2 separate regions of the Homo sapiens genome follow, and region 2 is linked to region 1. Evidence: fine-mapped expression QTL. A gene starts in region 1. The other region holds a variant in brackets. All regions are shown on one strand. Distances are from middle to middle. Region 1 holds the start of ZNF385A (zinc finger protein 385A). Region 2 holds the start of GPR84-AS1 (GPR84, ZNF385A, ITGA5 and GTSF1 antisense RNA 1).

The links.
Region 2: its variant is fine-mapped to the expression of ZNF385A in whole blood (TOPMed, PIP above 0.99).

Annotation. Positions count from the first base shown.
Region 1 is chr12:54,380,863-54,390,238 of GRCh38, forward strand. It overlaps ZNF385A (zinc finger protein 385A), which reads right to left and starts at 3,871. Exons shown (of 7, transcript NM_015481.3): 1 at 3,566-3,871. The coding sequence starts at 3,652. The region is part of intron 1 of GPR84-AS1 (GPR84, ZNF385A, ITGA5 and GTSF1 antisense RNA 1); the gene reads left to right. RefSeq lists enhancers at 6,428-7,062, 7,063-7,696.
Region 2 is chr12:54,348,381-54,357,279 of GRCh38, forward strand. COPZ1 (coat protein complex I subunit zeta 1) reads left to right here. Exons shown (of 9, transcript NM_016057.3): 8 at 1,240-1,278; 9 at 2,096-3,466. The coding sequence ends at 2,143. It overlaps GPR84-AS1 (GPR84, ZNF385A, ITGA5 and GTSF1 antisense RNA 1), which reads left to right and starts at 5,311. Exons shown (of 4, transcript NR_120487.1): 1 at 5,311-5,516. It also overlaps a transcript of GPR84 not described here. RefSeq lists an enhancer at 8,564-8,899. The variant G/T (reference allele first, on the strand shown) is at 3,394.

The sequences.
Region 1 (9,376 bases):
TCTCAGCCTGGGCAACATGGCGAAACTCCATCTCTACTAAAAATACAAAAATTGGCCGGGCGCAGTGGCTCATGCTTGTAATCCCAGCACTTTGGGAGGCTGAGTCGGGCGGATCACAAGGTCAAGAGATTGAGACCATCCTGGCCAACATGGTGAAGCCCTGTCTCTACTAAAAATACAAAAATTAGCTGGGCGTGGTGGTGTGCACCTGTAGCCACAGCTACTCTGGAGGCTGAGGAAGGAGAATTACTTGAACCCAAGAGGCTGAGGTTGCAGTGAGCGGAGATTGGGCCACTGCACTCCAGCCTGGGGGACAGAGTAAGACTCTGTCTCAAAAAAAAAAAAAAGAAAAAGAAAAAAAGAAAAAAAGAAAAAAAAAAACTATCCCATTCTACAGTCAGTAAAACTGAGGTTCAGAATGGTTAAATAACTTGCCTAAGATCACACAGCCAGTACTTTGGAACATCAGTTTAAATCCTGCCAATCAGATGCAGGATGCAGTTCAACACCCTGCTGAACTCTTCAAGCTTATCCATGCTCATCGCTTTAAATACCTCTGCTAGAGGCAGTGGAGCCATGAACTCTGCAGGAGTCGAAACCCTGGATTATCCAATCAACTAAGTAGCTTTGTGACCTTGGACAATTCACTTAACCTCTCTGCGTCTGTGTTTCCTCATCTATACAATGGGGACAATGATGGGGTTGCTAAGATCTGAGGTCAAGTGTAAGTCAGGTGTTTAGATGGGGGGAGGTTTTCTCCCCATCTTATGACCTAGTCACATCCAATCTTGCACTTTCTCAAATGCTCCTTTCTAGCCCTTGTTCATGCTACTTACTTCAGTCTGGAATGTTCTCTAAGACTACTTTAAAAATCTTGCCAATAATTCTTCAAAGCCCAAATTATATGTCACCTGCTCCAGGTTAAATCCCTTTTTCCTCTGCTCTCTGTTTTTCTGCCTAACTCTGGTTGGTCCCTTAGGCCCCATCACATCCAGGAAGGTCTTTCTTGATACTTGGGCTTCCATGCAAGCAAAATGCCTCTGACACAGCTCTTCTCACACTGTATAGGGTAACTGTTAACTTGTTATCCTTCCTACCAAACTATGAGCTCCCCAAGTGTGGTAACTGAGTCCCGTGTCCCTGACACCAGGCACAGTACCCAGCACATAGTAGGTGCTCAAAAAAAATTTTTTTTTTGTTAAATTGAATTTTTTTTTTTTTTTGAGATGGAGTTTCACTCTGTTGCCCAGGCTGGAGTGCAGTGGCGCAATCTCGGCTCACTGCAACCTCTGCCTCCCAGGTTCATGCCATTCTTCTGCCTCAGCCTCCGGAGTAGCTGGGAGTACAGGCGCCCGCCACCACGCCCGGCTAGTTTTTTGTTGTTTTTTTTTTTAGTAGAGACGGGGTTTCACCATGTTAGCCAGGATGGTCTCAATCTCCTGACCTTGTGATCCGCCTGCCTCGGCCTCCCAAAGTGCTGGGATTACAAGCGTGAGCCACCACGCCTGGCCCAGTCTGAAAACTTAAAAGTGCAATGCAAATGTGTGTCTGGGTCCCTCATTTGGGGGGAGCAGCTGTGGTATAACGATAAGTCTGTTTAGAGTCAGATGCAATGGGTTCAAATCATACCTTAGGCACATACTGTGTCAACTTATATAAATTACTAAACCCTTCTGAGGCTTAGTTTTTGCTTTCTTATTTGTTAAATGGAATAATAATGTCTACCTTGTTGGGTTGTTGTGAAGGTGAAATGAGATTGCAGATAGAAACATCTGCTACAGTGCCTGGTGTGTAGTCAATGCTCAATACATGTTTATGGCTAAATATGGTTTGATGTGGGTTATTTAAGTTGAATAAGGCTGACTTTCCCCAAACTTTTAGCTCTAGCCCACCTTCCAGGCTTCAGATTCTAACTATCTGTAGAACATTTTGGGCTCAATGTCCTACTGGTATGCCAAATCACCATATCCTTTTTTTTTTAAAAAAAATATTTATTATTATTTTTTAAAACAAAACAAATAGGCCAGGCACGGTGGCTCAAGCCTGTAATCCCAGCACTTGGGAGGCTGAGGCAGGTGGATCACAAGGTCAGGGTTCCAGACCAGCCTGGCCAAGATGGTGAAACCCCATCTCTACTAAAAATACAAAAATTAGCTGGGCATGGTGGTACGTGCCTGTAATCCCAGCTACTGAGGAGGGTGAGGCAGGAGAATGGCTTGAACCCAGGAGGCGGAGGTTGCAATGAGTCAAGATCATCATGCCACTGCACTCCAGCCTGAGAGATTGAGCAAGACTACATCTCAAAAACAAAACAAAACAAAACAAAACAAATAAAGCTTTAGCTTTAGCACCACATGCTAAAGCATCATCCTCACTGGAGACCAGCTTCCTCTTCCAACCCTCTGCCTCTGTCAGTGGTGACTTCCATCCAATCACAAAGGCCTGAATGCTGGAGTCATCCTTGACTCATGCCTTCTCTTCTCCCCCACCCCCAAACACCAGTTGGTCACCATGGCCTGTCAATATTTCCTTGAAATTACCTCCCCCATTCTCCCTTTCTCTCCACTCATACTGCCACTGCCACCAGCCCCGTCTGGCTTTTGAGGCTTCCCTCGGGCCTGCATTGCTAGGACAGCCTCCTAACTGTCACCTTCCTCCTGCCTCTGTTCCCTTTCATCCAGTTGCCCCACTCACCTTCCTCAAACACTGCTCTTACCAAGTCACTCTCCTGCTCAAGAATAGACAGTGGCGGCTGGGTGTGGTGGCTCATGCCTGTAATCCCAGCACTTTGGGAGGCTGAGGCAGGCGGATCACCTGAGGTCAGGAGTTTGAGACCAGCCTGGCCAACATGGTGAAACCCCATCTCTACTAAAAATACAAAAATTAGCCCGGTGTGGTGGCACACGCCTGTAATCCCAGCTACTTGGGAGGCCGAGGCAGGAGAATCGGTGAACTGGGGAGGTGGAGGCTGCAGTGACCCAAGATCGTGCCACTGCACACCAGACTGGGCAACAGAGTGAGACTCCGTCTCATAAAAACAAACAAACAAACACACGAATAGACAGCACCTCCTTATTTCATATTGTATTAAATCTAGACCACCTTGCCAGTCCTCCAAGCCCTATCCCACTGATGCTACCCACCCAGCCGTGGACTGCAGAGAGGTGAAACTTACAAACAGGCATGCTTATTTTCCTGCTCATTCCCTCTTTCTGGATTCAGCACCTACACCCCTCCTACCTCCCTACTGTTACTACCACCAATTTAAGTCTCATTACTTCTCTAGATGGTAGGGCGATTCACTGTAGGACTAAATGAGATAATTCATATAAAACACTTAGCACAGTGTCTGGCCCGTAGCAAGACCTCAGCAAATATTAGCTATTATTATTGTTGTTAACACTGTACCAGATGGCCCACAATACTCAAAATTAACTAGAATTAAGGAAGATGGGGTCATAAGAGGAGATAAGGAATTAGAAACAGAAGAAGAGGGCAGAGGTGGGTCTGAGAGAGAAAGGTCGGGTCACAAGAGGATGGAGAAGGCAGGCAGGCTGCTACTTACGGTGCTGTAGTTGCTGAAGAGGCCAAGGGTAGGGGCTGGCTCGAGTGGGAAGGGCAGGATCTGCTTGAGGTCCAGTGGGGGCTGCATGATCGGGGGCTGCCGTAGCAGAGGCAGGGGCCCTGCCCGGCTCAGGCTGCCTGAAGGGCAGAGAAAACATTCTGTGGGGTAGGAAGATTAAAGCTTGGGAACCCCACCCAAGCCTGCCAGTCCCACTCCCTAGCCAGGGCCCCCACACTCAGAAGTGTCACCCTCAGTGCACATAGTGTACACACTTCCCCTGCTGGCTCCAGAGCAATGGAGCACAGTGCCCTGTGGGCCTGGGGGAGGGTGTAGACCAGTCCTTCCCTTCTGGGTGGTTTTCACTTCCCCCTTTTCCAGCCTCCCTCCCCCAAACTCCTTAGGCACATTACAGACCCAGTAAGAGCTCATACCTTTTCTGCAGGCTGCCTGCTGAACCAGCAGGACTCCCAGCCTCAAGCCCCTGGCCACCCTCTTCTTCTGGTTTTGCTTTCCCCCAGGGGATCCTAAAGCTTGGTATCGCCCCAGGAAGAAGAGAGTCAAGTGGGTGATTCATCCTACTGACCAGAGGGGGATATTGAGACTTAGATTTGGAGGGGGGCTGCTGAATCTCTCAGATGCCCTAGAATTAGATTTTGCTCTAACTATAATTCTTTATTAACTATTGACATCTGTGGGGGTAGGTAGTGGGTTGGGTGGCTTTTGCTCTGGGAGGTGAACTACCTAGGCCATTCTCAGAGCCCCTTCTCCCAACCTTCCTCAGTCTTCCCCCATGCCCTTTTGTCTCACCAGGAATGCTCAGCTACAGGTCCAGTTCTGCAGGAGGAACCTCGACCTGGCCTATGGGCGGGGAATGCCTGGGTCTGACCCCAAGGGGAAATGAAAGTCCAGGCCAGCCATTCAACTACCCTTCTCTGAAACCTTCTCCTCCTCCTCTCAGAGTCACGGGAGGAACTCCACCAGACTCCAAAGGGGCAGCCCAAAGGTCCTCAGAGCCCTTCTGGGCTTCCACTGGCCCAGCTCCCTTCTGCGACCCTGCTGTGCACCAGCTGGGGAGTTCTGGCCGCCCTTCACTGCTCCAGTAACCCCCTGACAGCAACAGGGGTTCCCAGGAACAAAGGCAAACCGAGGAGGCTGCGTGCTTGGCCCGTCCTCCCTTGACTTTACTAGAGCAGAAGGTCTCCAGGATCCCTTCCTGTTCCCTCCAGACACCACCCCCTTTCATACCTTTAGTTTCTGATGCCTGCTGCCCCCAGGCAGTGGCCTGGCCCTGGCCCCCCAGGGGCCTGGGCCTGACAGCGTCCCCTTCCCTTGGTTCTGCCCTCTGCCCCCTCCCTTGCCAGCCCCCTCCCCCTCAGCCCAGTCAGTAGAATCAGCCAATCAGAATCCTGGAAAAGTGGGGCAGAGGGGAGGGCAGGGGAGCAGGGATTAGGGGAATCTGAGGCGACAGGGAGGGGGTGGGGAGGGCTCAGGCACAGCTGGGGGCTGGGAGCTGGTCCAGAAAGGTCTGGAGGGGTCTGTCTCTTTCACCCCATGCCAGGATGGGTGGTCAGGGTGACTGAGACAGAGCAGGGGGTCAAGGCTACTGGGAGTTTGGGCTTCAGAATTCTCAGGGCTAAAGGAGAGGGTAAGATCCTTGGCTTTGACCCTTAAGTAGCTGGGGGTCTGTATGCTTTGTGTCTATTCCCTCCTCTGTCACCTTCAAGGTTGGGATGGGGTGGAGAGAGGACACACACACACACACACACACACACACACACACACAGAGAGACGGACAGATGAAAGTGAGTGAGAGGATGGGAGAGTGGTAGCAGCAGGAATAGGTGACTGAGGAATCGGACAGTGACACTGAGAGAGAAAAGGATAGAGAACAATGGAGAGATGTCAGAGAGCGAAATCAGACATACAAACAGAGAGACACTGCCGAAAAGCTGGACACAGAACTAGAGACTAGGGCAGACAGACCGAGAGACAGAGAACAGAGACAGCGAGAAAGATAAAAGAGAAGAGAGAGGGACAGATAGATGGATGGGGCAGCTTGACCACCTCCCCTTCCTGGTCTGTCCCCTTATGGCATCTGCCCTCTGTGCCCCACCCTCCCTTACTGCCTGTTACCCAAGGCCAGGGCAGCCTTAATGAGCCCCAGGCGGCATCAGGAATGGTGAGAGAAACCTGAGTGCTCCCAGAGTCCCCTGCACCCAGCATCCACCCCCAGCAGCTGGTTTTGGGCTGGCACTTGCCCTGCCCCAGAGCACCAGAGGCTGAAGCTTGGCTTGACCCTTTCCCTGGTTCTAGATTTCTCTAGGCTCCCACTCCTCAAAGCCATCTTAAGAGGAGACAGCAGAGTTCCAGAAAAAGCCACAGAAAAAAATTTGAGGCTACTATGTGCCAGGTAATGAATTCCAAGTATTATCATATTTAACCTCTGAAGTAGCTCAATGAAGTAGCCATGATTCAATGAAGTAGCTGATAATATTTTTCTACTTGACTTATGAGGAAATGGAGACTCAGAGTAGTTAACAAACTTGGCTGATGTCACACAGCCTGTAAATATCAGAGCTGAGATATAGATCAAGATCTGCTGGACTCTACAGCAAATTCTTTCTCTGCTACCTTACTCCCAAAGGGCTTGAATTTAACTGAAGCAGAGATCTGAGCACAGGCTTCCATCTTGTTCAAGGAGAGGAAGGGGAGAGCAGGTTCCATGCACTTCCTCAGGTTGGAGTCCTCATTTTTCCTCCAGAGGAGGGATAGAGGAAAACAGGTAGCAGCCACTCAGTTATCTATGGCTAACAACTCATCTTTTCCACAGACATGAGCCCTGGGTGAGCGGGGGAGGGGAGGGGAGTGGAGTGGGAGAGAGGGGTCAAATGAGGGTACAGTGAGGGAAGGAAGCAGGCAGGCAACTGGAGACAAACTATCTACTTCCCAGATTCCTGGGTCCACTCCATTCTGAGGTGGCGAGAGAGGCAGATGGCAGCTTTTGGGCCGGGTGGGCAGAAACAGGACTCTTGGTTTCAGGTAGCCCAGGCCTTAGGCCTCTCCCTCTCTTTTTCTGAGGCTAACAATAGTTGCCGCTTTTTGAGGCTTTACTATAGGCCAGGCACTTTACATACACAATCTCCCAGTAGGTGGTCCCACCACTCACTAGCTGGGTGAGCAGCTAGGTTCTCTGACTCTCAGTCTCATTTCTCATCTGTCAAATGAAAACAACACTACTTGCCTCACCAAGTTGTTGACAGGATTGAACAAATCCATGTAAGATGCTGGCATGTCACAGTGAGAACTCAATAAATATTTGCTGAATAAATGAATCTCATCTTATAGATGATGACAATTGGCTCAGAAGGAGAGTTATTTGGCCAAGGTCACACAGTTAGTGAGTGACGTGAACCTGTCTGTCTGGTTCCAGAGACAGGGCTTTCAAGCACTACACTTTTCTGGGTAGATCTGGAAGGGGAGGAGGGGAAAAGGCAGGAATATAGGAATGGCTGGGGAGGCAGGAACTGAGTAGGAAGTGTGGGGCTTTTGACTTCTAGCTAGGTAAAATCTCCAGGCAGGTTTGGCAGAAGAGGTGGAGAGCAAATTGAAGTGTGTGTAAGTGTGTGTGTGTGTGTGTGTGTGTGTGTGTGTGTGTGGCACCCATGTCAGGCAAGGCAGGGAGGAGCTGAGGCCTGGCTGGGGCAGGCCACTCTTGAGGGAAGCTCATTAGAGTAATTACCTCCAGCAGATAGAGCCCCACCCAGCTTCATCGAGAATTGCTAAATGCTTTATTAAAGAAAGCTCCCAACATGATTTAGAGGGGGTGAATTCCAGACCCTTGGATGGATGTCCATCTGTCCATTTTCACATCCTACTTAGCCCTGGGCACTTTGATCCTGCTCAAGTTGTGCTGTCAGCACTAACCCTCAACCAGGCCACATCTGGCTTCCTCTAATGGTCTTTTCCTTTCCCTCTTCCCTAGAAATTCGGGCCTGGTCTGGAGCCCCAGCCCTTTGGCTATTTTAGGTGGGGCCTCATGCCTCAAGCCCTGTTGTTAAAGAATGCTTAGGGAGTGGCTGCATCTGAGTAGGAATAGGAGCCAGGAAAGGTGTTAGTATAGGGCTGTGGGTTAGTGTTGGTTGGAAGACTGGGCCAGAATGGGATTAAGATCAGAGAGAGATATTGGGGTTAAGGTTGCAAGTAGTTAGGGCCCAAGGTGGTAAAAAGCACAGGGCCAGTACTGGGTTAAAATGGGAATTAGACTTGGGCCACAGGAGAAATTCAGATCTCTTCTCTAATTAATCTCTTTTTCCCTTCAGGCCTTTTGGCCTTTCCTCCCTCCCCAGAAGTGCCTAAAATTGAGGGCGGGGGTGGGAGGAAAACTTTGAACCCCTGGGTCTTTTTTACCAAGTTCCATGTATATGTCCCCTTCAGCCTCAATTCCCCCATCTTGGCAGGAGGCAGGCTGAGGACTGGAAAGGCTTTGAAGTCAAAGATGAAAGAGACGAGGGGGATGATTATGAACAACTACTCAAAACACCATGCCTAATAACCCCAGGGTGGATGTGGGCGGGGACTGGGCCTAGAGGGAGTAGTTGACTGGGAAGGGGAGAGCAGGGAGGCCCCTGGGAAATCTTTCCCCACTTGATTGGAAAGGGCCTCCTTCAATGTGCCACTACCCTTACTGCACCAGGGACTCAGTTGGAAAGGATGGTATAGAAAGGCTTAGAACAGGGAACCTGAGCCCAGAACTGCCATCTTAAACCTGGGGCCCAGACTCTAGATCTTGAGCAGGCTGGCTGGGTGTCACATGCTAGGCAGGGAGGGTTTAGGGTCCCTCCACGGCTACCATGCACATGGATTCAGAGGACCTAAGTGTTCAGAACTGAAACCTTTGTAGGGTCCCTGGGGGTCCCTGGGGGTGGGGCCGGAGCCCTGGCTGGCAGCTTCCTCCCTCTCTCCTTCCTTCCTCATAGAGGGCTAAGGTATGTGGGCTTTGCCAGACTTCCCGCACTCTGTGGGCTTGGCATAAGGAGGGAATTAATTACAGTGTCCTCCAGGGGGATGTGAGGGTACCACTTGTGGCTGTGGTCCAGTTTCAGAAAATGTGGACCCAGGAATTATTCCTGTGGCTGGGGTCTTGGTCAGGCTCCAGCAAGCAGGTCCTTGATGTCCTTTTCAGGGCCTGCTGACCAGGGAAAGCACGGCTTATGCCAGCCTATTCTGGGCAAGCATGATGCTGCCTCTCGAGCTGTGCCCAGGGTGGAGCCAGGGTGCAGAGATCACACAGGTTGGAGGAATGTGGGTCCTGTGCTCTGGGGGACTGAGTGCAATGTGTGCTGGTGGGGGTCACTCTAGCATCAGGGTGGTATTCATAGAAGGGTGGGTAATACCTTCCCCTGCTGGAGAGGCTCTTGAGAAGGAGGCAGGCAACCAGCCATTCATGCCTTCGTTCAGTCATCCATTCAATAGATAGGTGGAGTGCCAGGTGGAGGGGGTGAGACATACAGCAGAGAGAGACTGAGGACACACAGGAGGAGGAGAGAAAAAGAGATGGAGGAAGGGCAGAAGGACAATAGGTAGTCAACAGGGATAGGCGGTGAAATGAAAGAAGGTAAGAAAGGAAGACAAATAGCAGAGGGACTCAGGAGAGGGATGAGTGCAGGAGCCAGTCAAGCCCTCCAGGTACCAGCATGGAGCCAGGTGTCCTCGGTTGGGGGCAGGGAGACCACAGGTGTCTAGGCCTGGTTGGGGGGCTCCCATCATAAACAGATCCCAGAAACCAGCCTAGCCAGGGTGGAGGGCAGAGGT
Region 2 (8,899 bases), 33 kb before region 1:
TTATTCCCTTCTTGGAGATGGATCCAGTCATCTGAGGCAGAGGAGTGTCTGTTTTGTCTTTTAAAGTGTTACATAGGACTGAGCGTGGTGGCTCACACCTGTAATCCCAGCACTTTGGGAAGCCGAGGCTGGCGGATCACAAGGTCAGGAGTTCGAGACCAGCCTGACCAACATGGTGAAACCCTGTCTCTACTAAAGACACAAAAATTAGCTGGGCATGGTGGTGCGTGCCTGTGATCCCAGCTACTCAGGAGGCTAAGGCAGGAGAATTGCTTGAGCCCGGGAGGTGGAGGTTGCAGTGAGCCGAGATTGCACCACTGCACTCCAGCCTGGGCGACAGAGTGAGACTCTGTCTCAAAAAAAATAAATAAATAAAATAATAATAATAAAGTGTTACATAACTGAGGATGGTACCTCTCCATTAGGAAGTACTTATTTGCCAGAACCTCAGTCCTCTTTGGTGCTGGTGATATCAGAAAGGGGCCTCTGAGTTAACCATAGAAGGCCCCAGGTCAGCTGAGGAGATAATGGTGGATGCAGAGAGAGCCCACCAACAAATTATACGGGTGCAAAGATGTCTGAGCAAAGCAAATCTCCCCATTCACAGAATGTCCTGGCTCTGACCTCCACAGAGTGAAGGCTGACAGTGCTTGGTAATGGGAAATCTCTCTTAACTGCTGTGGGCTCCATTTGCATAGTTTAATCTTCTCCTCTAACATATGTCTCTGTGTGGCAAGAGAGAGGGTCCCCCCCATCAACTCCCCGCTTTGTCTTCTTAGGCTGCTGTTGCAGCAGTTTATTTCTTCAAATTAACATGCTGTCGTTACCCATCAGGCTTTGCGGGATCCATTAAACCACTCCTGGCTCCCCCTCATCCTTTCCCTAGTGATACTGATATTCAGAAAAGGCCTTTTCTGACTAGGGAATCAGGTCCTCCACCCCCACGTTAAGGGAGTTGAGGATCAGATAACCTGCTGGTTACTCTGAATGGAGTTAAATCTTTTAAGAAGTCCTCCTGCCTTAAAATGGAAGCTGGATGAAATGACCCTTTTTTGTTCATAGTCCCTCTGGCCAAGTAAAATTGTAGCTGTACTAGTCCCTAGAAGGGACTGAGAAGTTCAGTGCATCTGCCCTTTGTTTCAGTTTAAAGGATCACTTTTTTCTTCTCTAATACCAGACTCCAATCAGGTCTTACTCCAGCTTTCTCCCACACTAAATGCTTGTATCTCTGTGCCATAGGGTGAAGATGTCCCCCTTACGGAGCAGACCGTGTCTCAGGTATGACTCTCCCTTCTTCCTTTCCAGATGGACTGGGTCACTAAAGAGGCTAGAACAGCATTCCACCCATACCTCTCAAATCTGAGTGAAACTAGAGACTCAAGACACATCTTCCTTGGCTCCCTCTTATTCCAGAGAACTGGGACTCATACAGCCAGCCACTCCCTACCCCTACTTCCAACTCCTTTCTCAGTTACCTGTGAGCAGTGGCTGTCAGCCTTGCTCTGTACCCTTCAAACCCTCCCTGCCTGCCTGATGCCTCATTCAGTGATTTATTCCCCAGCAGAGGCTTGCCTTAAGCAGATGGTCTGTGTGCATTTGTGCACACACACTCTCTTTCTCTTATTATTCAATTGAGGGCTAAGCTGGAAATGCATATTCTAGAATATGCAGGTTTTGCAGATCCATCTTGCTACCTTGACTGCAGATAGATTGTCTACCTGATGTAGGGGGAAGGGAGGGGTTCCGTTTTCTACCCACTTGGAATTCTCACCAAGAAGTCCATCTGGATTTGTTACCCGCCCCCTGCCCGCCGCCCCTTTTAACATATGTCCAGTAACTCCCTTTTTTTTTTTCTTTTATACCAGGTATACCTCTTCTCTCTTCATCCCCTCAGTGGGTTTGAATTTTTTTGGAATTTTCCAAACAATCTGCTAGGGCCTTAGAGAGCTTCTTCCCATCTCTTTACCCTTGGGGATTTTCTATTCTCCATTCTTCTAAGGACAGGGAAGACAAGTGAGGGGAAGGAGATCCCCAGCCCTCATCCTTACCCTGCCCTGTCAGCAAGCTTTCCTCAATGCTGCTCTTATCTCTGCAGGTGCTGCAGTCAGCCAAAGAACAGATCAAGTGGTCACTCCTTCGGTGAAGACCTCACTGTTCCTGGCTCTTCATCCTCTTCAAAAAATTTGCATGTCTGCTGTGAATTTTCATCTAGTTCCCCAATCGATGCTCTCAGGGTCATCTCGGGGATCACAGGGATCCTTAAATCTCCATTCTGTTTGTGGTTGCCCCCTCAACCTCCCCTACACCCTTCCTATTCTTTTTCATTCTTCTTGCAGTTCTGGGAGTAAAGCTCCCAGCATATTTAGATAATAGGGCAGGGGAAGCACCCTCTTTCTTTCTAGACTGGATTATGCTCACATGCTCCCTTGCCCTGACATTTTTGTAAATTCTGTGCCCTTTGCTGTAGCTACACTTCAGATTAAAGTAGGAGAAAGAATGTGCTGAGTGTTTTCCTCCCTTTGCCTCTACCTGGCCCTCATCCCAACAGCCCAGCAAGGGGAGAGAGAAAGAGAATTCTTTTCTATAGAACGAGTGGGGGCGGGGATGGGTAGGGATTTATCCAATCTAAGCCCTAACCCCACTTAGTGACCTCAGTGTTTTCTTCCATTCCTTCTTACTGCCCTGTCCTCTGCCTTGGAAGAGGCTTTGGGAATAGTTCATAGGGAAGGGACAACATGGAAGAAACAGCGATTTAAATTGTATTGAACAGGGCATATAAAATGCATTCTGTACCCTGATCTGGCATATAGCTTCAAAACTGCAGTGGCGAGTGTCCATCTCTTAGTTAGCTACCTTAACTGTCCACCCTTACTACCTGTGGGATCGTTGCCTGGTTTGTCTTCTCTGTGTCCTGGAGCAAAGCCAGTTCCTAAAACTAAAACTCCATTCTAGTCTTGGGAAGAAAAGTTTCTACTCAGAACTGGGGAAGGAGTGGAACTTATGACTTGGGCCTCTAGGCTGTCTCTGTCCCCTCAGCTCCCCGACATGCATTTACTCTCTGCCGTGGGTCTGCAGTCGCTGCAACCTACCCTCTCTCTGCCTCAGCCTTACACCCAAGCAGTAGGTCTGTGCTCTCCCTGTCTCTAGGTCGCTGAGAGAGGTGCTTTTCTTCATAAAACCTTTGGGGTTTGGATTTCCCCAGGAAGATGGAGAATGGAATACTCACTCTTGGGTCTAATCTTTCCCCTTGACCCAGAACTTCCTCCCCACAAAAATGCCTTTAAAAACCTTCCTGAGACTTAAGCATTCTGCCCCACTTACTAACTGCCAGTTCTCCAGCACTGAGGTGGGGCAGATAACGGGGCATATTTAAGGGGGCATCTTTGTGTAAAA[G/T]ATGCATGGAGTCAGGAGAAAACCACCTTCATAAACTGCTCTGTGCAAAGAGGAATAAAACATTTTTTCCAAACTGCCTTTGTGTGATGTTTCTGTTTCTCTTCCTCTCTTTTTGGCAGCTACTCCTGTTCCTCCAGCCCCCCGTCATTCCCCATCTTATAATATTTCTTCCCTCCTACCTCAGAGACTCCTAGCAGTGCCCCCCCATCCCTAATTTACGGGGCTGTTTGCCTCCTTGGCATCTCTCCGTCCCCTCGCCTGGAAATTGGCGCCAGGGGTGGGGTGGGGATGGTATTTTCTCAGTGGGAGTCCCAGGGAACTGAGTTCTTCCCCCATCACCCCCAAAGCCAGCTGCCTGCTCCCGCCTCAGCCATTAGTAACCCAGAGACGCGCACCTGCGTGGGGGCTCTTCTCCAGCCCTTGCTCACTTCCTGCACCTCCCACTCCTGCTCTGAAACGGCGCTGAGCGGGTTATTTATCGGAGCCAGCGCTGCTCCAGAAGGTCAGGACGGTGGTGTAAATAACCTCTTCTCGCCATTTCCCCGTCCCTCCAGAGCCTGCTCCCCTCCCCCTCCTCCACCTTTATTCGCACAAATGAATGTGGCTGGGCTGGCGCAGCGCCTGGCCCTGCATCTTAATGGGGCGGTGAGCTCACAAGATGGATTTAGCTGGGGGTTTTATGGTTGCCGCGGCGACAGAATGCTTTGGTTTTCTTTCCCCCTTCCTCTGCAGGATTTTTAAGGAGGGGGGAGTGTGGGGAGCCTCTTCTCCACTGCAGTTTGAAGGGTCTCCTCAGTCACCTCTGCCGCTCATAAAATGGACCTGCAATTCCAGGATTAAGCAAGGGAGACCAAATTAGTATCTCAGATGGGAAAGGATGGGGGAAGGAAGGTAGCAGGAATGGGGAGAGTCTCTCCAGCATCAGAACATGAAACCCAGAGTTTTCCAGTCTTGCCTGCTCTTCTGTGAAAACCTGACAATTAAGCTCAACAACTATGGGGCACCTGTGCATGGGATACTCCTCAGCAGGTAGAAAAGAAAAATACCTGGGTGTACCACGTCTGCCAACAGTCCTGCATTGAAAGTTGGAGTGCAAGAGTTTGGATAAAGACTAGGTACTTCTTTTGTCTTTGCCTGTCTGAGCTGGGGAAAAGCAATACTCAGCCTTAACATCCTAATCTTCCTACTCACCACACAGCATTGACCTGGGGGAGGGGCAGTGTCAGTGCCAGAGCTGGGTGGTGGTGATCTGTGATGGTGTGGAGTTCTATCCAGTTCTCAAACTTGGAATTCTCTGAGCTTCAGTTTCCCCAGCCTGGTCTGGGTTAAACTCCTGCCTTCTGTTTTCCAGCATGAATGGAACTTTGGTGCCCTGGCCTACCCAGTCTTTTGGCCAGCAATTTTTTTTCAGGGCTATGAGTAAACACATCCCCAAGCACTGACTGAAGCAGAGCCTGGGAGCAGGGTCTGATTATTTCTTTTCCTTGGTTTCTTTCTGTCTGTAAGCCTCTGTCTTTCTGTTTGTGAGCCTTTCCCTCTTTCCCAGGGAATGCTGGGAGGCCCCTCCTCCCCTCTCCCCCTTCCTCCCCTTTGGCTGGGAAAGTGGCTACAGCCTGAACAGTGCCAGACACCTGCCTGCCAGATGTGGCGATTCCCCATTCTTCCCCCCACCCCCCTATGTCTATTCTTTCCCTACCCCACTGAGCTCAGGCAGAGGGAGCCCCCCAACAGGGTGATTTACTGCTGCTGCCTCTGTTCCTCAAGTGCCCTCCTCCACTCCTCTCCCTCTCCCTCCCCCTGATGCCCATGCCCCCTCTTTTCCCACAATGTTCTGCAGCTACCTTCTTGGTACAGCCTCCTCCCACTCCTACTCCAGAGTGCTAGGCTATGTAAACTCCAGCTCCTGGACTAGAGAGTGAATGCATGGGGCAAAGGTGATTAGCCTTCTGTTTCACCCATGGGAGAGTACATCAGCAACAGGGCTGAGGACAGGGGCAGCCAGAGCTGATGTCATTCTCACTGGGGGAGGAAGAGAGGTGACAGAGTGGAGGAGGTGAATGGGGAAGGAACCAACACTCCAAGACTGTCTGGAGAGGAGAAAAAGGTCTCTGAGAACTTCCTAGGTAGGTGACAGAGAGTCCAGAATTGTGGATGCCTGGTGGACATCACATCTTTCTGGCTGAGCCTCCAGACCTTGTCTTTGAACCTGTATCTCAATATGACTTAAGAGATGCCCCTCAGCTCCTCCCCTTCACACTGACCCAAAACACACAGAGAGAACTTTAAGTCCGCACCCTTCTCTCTTTAGTGTTTGTCATTCTGTGTCTTTTCTTTTCTCTTTTCTTTTTTTTTTTTTTTTGAGACAGGGTCTCACTCTGTCACCCAGGCTGGAGTGCAGTGGCATGATCGTAGGTCACTGCAGTCTCGACCTCCCTGGGCTCAGGTGATCCCGCCACCTCAGCCTCTTGAGTAGCTGGGACTACAGGTGTGTGCCACCATGCCTGACTAACTTTTTGTATTTTTTATAGAGACGATGTTTTGCCATATTGCCCAGGCTGGTCTTGAACTCCTGGGCTCAAGTGATCCACCTGCCTTGGCCTCCCAAAGTGGTGGGATTACAGGCATGAGCCACTGCACCCGGCCTGGTGTCCTTTTTTGTTTGTTTGTTTGTTTGTTTGAGATGGAGTCTTGCTCTGTTGCCCAGGCTGGAGTGCAGTGGTGCAATCTTGTCTCACTGCAACCTCCGCCTCCCGGGTTCAAGCGATTCTCTTGCCTCAGCCTCCCGAGTAGCTGGGATCACAGGCATGTGCCACTATGCCTAGCTTTTTTTTTTTTTTTTTTTGTATTTTTTAGTAGAGACAGGATTTCACCACGTTGGCCAGGCTGGTCTCCAACTTCTGACCTCTGGTGATCCGCCCGCCTCGGCCTCCCAGAGTGCTGGGATTATAGGTGTGAGCCACCATGCCCGGCCTATGCCTTTTCTTTTTCAATCTCTTCCCTCTCATTTCACCCTACCTCCCTTAGTTGTGCTTCTCTTTCTGGTCACCTTCTGCCCACCCTGCCCTTCCGTGCCATATCATAACCCAGTATGATTCCCAGACCTCCCACTAAAGCAGGGACTCATTCAGAGCCTCTTTTCTCCTTTCCATCTATTCTTGGAATCTTAACTCCCAAAGGTATCCTCTGGGTCAGAACAGGGTTCTGAGGTGGGACTGAGGTAGGAGGGATGGCTGGGCTGAAGAGTGGCAGAAACAGGACAGATGGAGCAGCGTCCAAAGAATTTGGGGAGGGGCGAGAGGGAGACAAGAAGATGGAAAGAAACAAAATGAGAGAGAAAAAGTGATTGAGAGACCGAGGCAGAGGCTGAGAGACGGTGAGAATAACAAACTGGGAGAATGAGAGACACAAAGAAGGAAGGCAAGACTGGGAGCAGAGAAAAAGAATAGAGTTGGAAACAGGAAAGTCATAGCAAGAGAAGGCCACTAGGGAGGGGCCAGGCAAAGGGCAGCCTGGCTCTCCGGGGCTCCCTCATGCCATAAGTCCTGTGTGTGTGAGTGTGTGTGTGTGTGTGTGTGTGTGTGCGCATGGCACATTTGCACAGGGGTCTGCGGTATGGATAGGATGATTTCCACAATATTTTTCCACTTCTTTCAGCAGTCTCTTTCCTTGAGGCACCCCATACTAGCCCCCCATCTCCCAGTATTCCAGATGCTCAAGGGACCATTCCAAAGGTATTTCCACAACTCGGCAATCCTGGCTTTCTCACTTGGAATGCAGGCCTGCTGGAATGTCCAGGATCTGTAGAATGAAGAGCCCCATCCCCTCACTGCCCACCCCCCATGCCTGCCCACCAGCTGCTCCTGTCTATCTTCTCCCCATTCTCCTTGTATCTCCCCTTCCTCCACACTGACCCCTCCCCCAGCTCTGACCCCCAGCCTGCCTGGGGCCTGGGTCAGAGGGGAGACAAAGACAGGATTTATCACCAGTATTGAGAAGTAGCCAGAGACCAGGGCTGAGGGCAATGGCTGACCTCCTTCAGATAGGAGGGAGCACTAGGCCGGATGCCGGGAGGCTGGAAGGCTGGGTTCCAGTGGCTGCTGCTCACAACCCCATTTTCCCACTCCAGCTTTCCTCTCTCCCTTGTCTCTGAAGACTTGGAAAACAGAGAAGAGTATGACCCTGAGGTGATTTTAGGCCTCTGAAGGAAAACCTGGGAGAAAGGAAGAGATGAGATTGATATCTTAGGGTTATTCTTTTATGGATATGGAAGAGGATTTGGAAACTAGAGGCAATCAGGCACCAACTGTTTCCAGGGCTGGGAAAGAGTTCAGGCCTAATACTGCAACAGATGAGAGGGACTGTCCTCTAATATAGAGAGGGACTTCTCAAGAACAGGCCCTGGTTGCCAGTAGGAAAGGAAATAGGGGTGATTATGGGTCCTGAAAGGTGGGAGAAACAGTCTCACCTGAAGAAAGAAGAAAGAAATGAAATTTACCAAGGGCTAATTCTAGCTCTAGCCCCTCTGAAAAAGTCTTCTTCCCTAAGATCCCCAACTCCCTCCTGAGAGGTACAAGGAGCAGCTGGTCCTTTACAGTAAATACACTATTGGCCCGAAATTGTCTCTACTCAGCAGACAGGGTGTGTGCTTGAGGAGAGGGAACAGTATGATCCAGGAGTTTCCGAGAAACCAGACTGTATATCTTTCAGTGGACAGCTCCCGCAGCTTCTCTAGCTGCCCTTGGAAGCCCACCACCAGCCCCTCTAGAATCTCAGTGTGTCAGAAGCCTCCACAAACCCAGCTCAGAATCTTTCATGCCCCTTCCAGCCCCTGGCACCCAACTTCCTGCTTCTTGCCTTTACCCTATTGTCCTGGAAGACGGCTGCTAGAGTTACCTCCGAGTGAGAAGACAGTGGAAGGATGAGAAACTGAGGGATCTGGGAGTTACCAATCTACCAGTTTCTCACCACAATCCCACCAAGCATTCCCACCCGGGTCTGGTGAGGGAAAACTTGTGGTCTCTCTTAAACTCCTCTGCAAGCTGAAACCATTCTGTCAATTTCTGATGCAAAGCCCAAAATTGGAAATTTTAGTGGGAAGGGGTTGTGGATTGCAAGAGAATGGGAGAGGACAAAAGAATTGGGTGGAGGGGGGTGGTGTGGGCACACCAAGTAAGGAAGAAACAGGAAAGGGGAGAAGAGAGCATGTCTTTTTTCCTCAGTCCCCCTTCCCCCAGTTGAAGAGGCAGATTTACAGCCTTGGTTTGGAGAGGGGGTGAGCATAAGGAAGACAGATCTGCAGTTCTGCCCTCTGAGTGTCTGGGTACTTAGCTTTAACTCCCCCATTAGCATCAATCCCCATCTTGCTGCCCATCCGTCTTCTGACATCAGCTCCTTCCCCTCTCTGTAGCCCAAGCTTTCTGACCCTAAGTGGCTCTTAAAGGGCCAGTCTAGACCCTTCCCTCCCTCCTGCCACTCCAGGCAGCAGTCTAGTGTATGTACGCATGTG